2 separate regions of the Homo sapiens genome follow, and region 1 is linked to region 2. A link means that fine-mapping ties the variant in region 2 to the plasma level of a protein whose gene starts in the linked region. Region 2 holds a variant in brackets. A gene starts in the other region. All regions are shown on their reverse strands.

Region 1 (2,897 bases), not on the chromosome of region 2:
TGTCCCTCCCTAGGTCCTGGCCACATTTCCCGAAGGTTATTAAATGGAGAATTCAGCAGTGGAGTTAGAGACGGACGAATGTACAGGAAGATAAGAGGGAAACTCTTCCTCATTTGCTTTAGGGGGTTGTGCTGGGAAAATGCGGGGAGGTTAAACAAAGCTTCTCCTAGGACTCCACGATTCATTTCTAACAACTTCTTAAAAGACTCCCGTCTCGGGAGCAGACGCCCCCTCCCCGCTCTCTAAGCCCCGCTGCATGAAAGGATGCCCTCGGCCCCTTGCCAGAGGGCCGGGTCGGGGATTCCCGGGGCTTCAGCTCCTCTGCCGGCCCGCCCCTCCGAGCCTTGGGAGCCAGGTCGCCGGCCGCAGCGCTCAGTCTTGTAGTGTCCTGGCTGCGGAGCAGAAGCGCCCGGGCAGCACCAAGGTGTGCAGTGCGGGAGGCTGGGGCCCCAGGGCGCAGAGTGGGCGCGAGACCCTCCTACTCGCTGGATCCCGGCCAGCCTTTCTGGATTCCAAAGTTTCTGCCGCCCAAAGGGGCTGGGAGAGCCCGAGACGCCGCAGGACACCGGCAATCCAGCCTCTCTCCGCCTCACTCCCCGAACGCCCCCACTCTGCGCACTCCGGTGCGTCTGTCCCCTCCCCCTCAGCCCTCCTCCCTGAGGGCTCCGGACGTGCCCGGCCCTGCTGACCCCCTGCCCGGTCCCTGCCGACCTCAACACTGGGCGAAGCGCCCATATTCACAAACTTGGGCGGGGGAGGGGGTTCCTCCGGAGCAGCTGAGCGGCTGAACCCAGCTGGAGCGCGTCCGGCCGCGCGGGGACACCCAGCATGCACCCTCAGCCCTGAAGACCGGCGCCAAACCTACATACATGAGCGCAGGGCGCGGGCCGGACGCCGGGCTCGCAGCGGGCGCAGGGGTAGCAGCGGCGGGCGCGGGCCCGGGTTGCCAGCGCCCATCCTGGGCCGGCCGGCGACCCGCGTGGGGCGGACCACTAACAGCCCAGCCCCACCTGCGCGCTCCGCCTGGCGCGCACACCGGGCTAGGGCGTCTCTGGGGAGTCGCTCATCGCGCTGTCAGCTGCCGGTAGTCGCGGCCCCAACTCGCGTCAGTGCCCGCGTCGCCCTCAGTCGCTCATCCTCCGGCCTCGTCCCCGCTTCTCCGAGACCAAGCGCGCCCCGGGGGCCACCCTGGCGCCGCCTCGCTCCTCTCCGCGGAGGGGTTCGGGGAGCTCTCCAGACCCGGCAGCCGGAATGTCTGGGCAGCCGTGGCGCGTCGGAGGGAAAAGAGAAGCCCGGAGCGCGGCCGGCGCGCGAGTGGCACCGAGGCCAGCATGGGAGCTAGCGCGCCCGCCTCCCGCCTCCCCCTGCCGCAGCCGCCTCCGCCCGGCTCCCGTTCCGCTCCCTCCTCTGCTGCCCCCGCTCTGGAGGCCCCGCCTTGGCCCGCGCTGCCCCGGGGGAGGCCCTCGCGCTGCCCCCGGAGAGGCCCTACCGCCGCACCCGCTCCCTTTGCTGCGCCGGACCAACCTGTCACTCGTCCGCGCGGCCGCGTCCCCACCTCCGCAGCCGGCCGCAGACCCTGCCAGGGCTGCCATTCTCCAGTCGAGTCATTCACTTTGCGCTGGACCTTTCATCTTGGCTTTTCTCTTTTCTTTAATTTCTTCCTTCCTAATTGGCCCCCTCTGGCTTTCCTCTTTGTGGACAGCTTGTTTCAGCTACTGTGTTCAGATTGGGATTCGAAGGCCGTGTTAGTTTAGCAGACTGTTGAGACTTTCTCGTCTTTGCATTCAGAAACCCAGAGAAATAGACGTTTACGAGTAAGAAACGTAAAAATCTCAAGCGCGAACTTTCTGAATCTCTGCCAATCTCTCCCCGCTCCCATCTTCCTCTTTCTGCCTGCTCTCTCTTCTACTACAAATAGAAACCTGTTTCCTAACTTTGCTAGAATCCTCAACTGTTAAGCAGAGGCCCGGTTGTTTTTACTCTTTGATCTTGTGTAAACGAGAAAACGTCAATAGTACCTGTTCAAATTAATCCCCGAAATTGAATTTTCATGGAAATGGCCCATGGCAGTGGTTCCCACTCACGGCATTTTAGAATCCCTGAAAGTGCTCGGACGGTAAACAGATAAGCTTCCCTGCAAGGTCAGGCGCTCTGGCTGGTGGGAACTGGGGAGGCTGGTTTGGGACACAGTTATGTCTATCTTTTAATAGTATAGACAAACAAATCTTAGCTGAGGTGCTAGGGAGCCCTCCTTGAAAGCCTGAGAAGGCTGCCCCTCCACCCCCTCCAACACATACACAACCAACAGGGCTGGATGGAGGATTTCTTTCTCTCTCTCTCTCTCTTTTTTTTTTTTTTCAGACGGAGTCTCGCTCTGTGGCCTAGCCTGGAGCGCAGTGGCGCGATCTCCACTTACTGCAAGCTCGATTCCCGGGTTCATGCCTTTCTGCCGCCTCAGCCTCCTGAGTAGCTGGGACTACAGTCGTCCGCCATCACCCCCAGCTAATTTTGTTTTTGTATTTTTAGTGAGACGGGGTTTCACCATGTTGGACATGATGGTCTCGATCTCCGGACCTCGTGATCCTCCTGCCTCGGTCTCCCAAAATGCTGGTGAGCCACCGCGCCTGGCCTGGATGGAGGATTTCTATGTACAGGATGATTTGAGCCCTTCTGCTGTTTCAGTTCTCACTCTCATTTTTCCTTTTTTTTTTTTTTTTAATGTTTTAGAGACACGATCTCACTTTGTCACCCAGGCTTCAGTGCAGTGGCATGATCACGGCCCACTGCAGCCTCAAACTCCTGCCTCAGACTCCGGAGGAGCTGGGTGTACAGGTCACCACACAGGGCTAATTTTTTGTTTGTTTGTTTTGTTTTGTTTCGTTTAGGTTTTTTCTTTT
Region 2 (2,897 bases):
CTGGTGGCCTCCTTCCTCAAGCTTTAACTTGTGCCCTCCCTGGCAACAGGGAGTCATGGGTTAATGTCACCTGTCATGCCTCTTTCTTCAGGGAAAATATTAAAAGGCTCAAATCCAAGCTGTGACTTCCCTTAGACAGTGTAAGCCTGTAGGGTGCAGCCCCAAGTTTATGTCCAAAGGCTGCCTCAGAACCCTGGAGGGAGCAGCGCCCAGCTGGCAGCTCACTCTGCCCTTGCAGTTCACTGGCCTTTTCGCAGCCAGGCTAAGATAGGCAGTGCAAGGAGCTTCCCACTGGCCAGAGCAGCTGCCTTGTAGAATGTGGGGCTGGCTTTTAGAAGTTTCACACGCTTGCAGCTAAGAGTGCAGAGCTCTCTGTTTTACTTCGTGAAACATTAGCAGCTCTGAGGGGCTTGGCTTTTGGTAAGGGACTTATGGTCTGACTTGCCACAAGCACCTTGAGCTCCTGGGTTGGTTGGTGGTTGGTTGGTTGGGTTGTTTTAAATTTGATTTTTCTTTTCCTGAAGTTTGTTAGAAGTCAGACCTATGCAAGGAAAACCATGGCCCACTTCAGCAGCCATCCAGTGGGGGTGCTTAATCGGTGGTGGTAGGATTCATGGAAACGTTTTTTTGAAATGAAAGAGAAGATGATGTACTTACATTGTAAAATGGTTTACAATAAAGTTTGGCATCTTATTACAGTTTTTTTTAAAAAGAAACCATCACATTTGTGGTTGTGGTTGTGGGTTCTCTGGAGTTGAAACAGCTTGGCAGGGTCAAAAAAGATTCCCCTGTGAATTAGAAGGTTCTCCCCAGGGACCAGAGTGAGAAGGAACCTTACGAAGCCTCATGGCAGGAGTGGGAGCCAGCAACTGCCCAGTGAAAAGCCAAACATGCTCTTGCCATGTCCATCTCCACTTCTTCGCTAGTGAGAATTAAAGCAAGTCCGTCTCTGAGGAGGACATCGTGTTGGGGAGGTAGAGTATAAGCAGTGAGTAGCCCACATCCTTGTCCCTGAGGCTGCGGGGCTGGAAGGAGGTCCCTGGGCAGAGCCGCAGCATCAGGTGCCATCTGCAGGGGCACCCCTGGAACTAGTGGAAGGCCCCCACAAGGCCTGGCCTGCCCTCAGCTGCCTCTTGGCCC[A/G]TGTGCCACATCCTGGGCATTCCTCATGTCAGCACTTGTCTCAGATCAAGCCTGGCAGTCCTCTCATTGGCCTCCTGGAGCCAGGGTGTCAGGAGGGGGATTGGGGTGGGGTTCAAAGTATGACAGCAATGGAGTGGCATTTGGGATAACCAAATGTCAGTGCCTGGTTGAGTTCCATCTGCCTGGAGCCTTCGAGGATAAAAATAATCTCCATCATAAACTGAAAAGGACTTAGATATGTGTGTTACTGGGAGGGCTGCGACCTATGCACACCTATTCCCCATACCCACCCCAGGCGTAGGCTCCTGGCCTGTGCCCTGGGGGATCTTCCCCTTGCAAGGAGGGGTGTGTTAGGAGCTTCTAGCAAAGGAGAGCTAAGTGACCTTCCGGGGAGCCCTTGGGCCTGTTCTTGTCTCTGCAGCTCAGTATCTGGAGTGGGCTTCACTCTCCCCCACCCTCTTTGAGCAACTGAAACTGTCCTGCAGGCCAGCCCCCCTGCGGTGGCCTCACCTACTCGGAGGTGAGTAGGCTCAGGCCTGAGCCTGAGCCTGTTTCACACCTCTGTCTCATCAGTGCTGTCACCATCGAGCATGGTTTCCTCCCTGGTCCTTTCCAGACCCCTTACTCCCCCCTCTCTGAACTTGCAGTTGGAATAGGATAGAGGACAAGGACATCAGCAAAAACATGAGCAACTCCCCAGGCTCCCTTTACCTCACTTTCTCCACCTGTGAACCTGTGGTAGCCCCTCTCTGAGTTTGCTGCAAGGGCCCAGTGAGCTTGCCATAATCAGACGCAGCAGACACGGGAAGCTCCTGCTCTGCCACCATGCAGGGATGGAAAATCTGTCCACTGGAATCCAGGGGAAGGGATGGAAGAGGAAGAAAAACAAGCTTGGAGCAGTCCAACCCAGCTAGGGCCCTCCATTCCCTCAGGGACACCCCACACCCACCCCACACACTGGGATGAACCCTTGCAGAGGAACAATTCAGATGGTCACACATTCCAGGACCCAAATCCGTAAACACAAAGCATGTCCGTCAGTGCCAGCACCTCCCCCCGGCGAATCAAGCAGCTGTCCCAGAGGGCAAAGGGTCTCTGCAGCCATCTGCTTTCATCAGGGCTGCAGCCCCCAGGCAGCAGTACTGGGAGCCCCTCTCATCTCCGAGAATAAACTCTGAAGCCAGCGACCCTGCGGACCTGAATCATCAGGGAGCCTGTCAGAGGAGGGGCAGTGACTCTGCGGGACAAGCAAGCAGGCTATATAAGTTTCAGAAGGCTGGGCTCCACTCAGATCTTTTCCAGCAGCTGCTGCCTGCCAGAGAGGCGCCTTCAGAGACCCAGCGCTTACACAATACCCACCATGTCCCAGGTAGGAGGACCCAGCAAGGGCTGTGTTGATGCCAGAGGGAGTGGAGGTGGAGTCCTGGACACTTTCGGCTCTGGCAGCTGTGTCTTGATCTGAGCCCCAAGCATGAACTGGAGGCTCTGCAGCCCTTGGGAGATGGGGGCTCAGGGAGGACCCCCTGAAGAACCCCTCTTCTATGTGGCTTTGGTGGTATTCCACGGTTTGTTAGGAGGAGTGGAGAGAAATGTTGGGGGTGGGGGGGGCCTAGATAGATCTTTGCATGTGCCTGTGTGTGTGTGTGTGTGTGTGCGCATCTGTGTGTGTGCTGCCGATATAGCTCAGTGTGTAGAGCTTTGTGCATTTGTAGCTATGGGCCCGGCAGCCATGCACTCTGTGTGTGGCCACACACATA

Direction of the effects. Positions count from the first base shown, and alleles are read on the strand shown. Strength reflects both the effect of a copy and how common the allele is.
In carriers of allele A in region 2, the plasma level of the protein whose gene starts at base 1,345 in region 1 tends to be higher than with G alone (moderate association).

What was found. PIP is the chance, under the fine-mapping model, that this variant and not a neighbour inherited with it causes the effect. Protein levels are from antibody-based Olink assays in UK Biobank. Linkage for the fine-mapping came from a reference panel and not from the study's own genotypes, which makes the PIPs less certain.
Region 1: VWC2 starts here. The variant in region 2 is fine-mapped to the plasma level of the VWC2 protein (UK Biobank, PIP above 0.99).

Annotation. Positions count from the first base shown.
Region 1 is chr7:49,772,086-49,774,982 of GRCh38, reverse strand. VWC2 (von Willebrand factor C domain containing 2) reads right to left here and starts at 1,345. Exons shown (of 4, transcript NM_198570.5): 1 at 870-1,345.
Region 2 is chr3:52,834,552-52,837,448 of GRCh38, reverse strand. The region is part of intron 8 of STIMATE-MUSTN1 (STIMATE-MUSTN1 readthrough); the gene reads left to right. It overlaps MUSTN1 (musculoskeletal, embryonic nuclear protein 1), which reads left to right and starts at 2,430. Exons shown (of 3, transcript NM_205853.4): 1 at 2,430-2,509. The coding sequence starts at 2,501. STIMATE (STIM activating enhancer) reads left to right here. Exons shown (of 8, transcript NM_198563.5): 8 at 1-716. The variant A/G (reference allele first, on the strand shown) is at 1,141.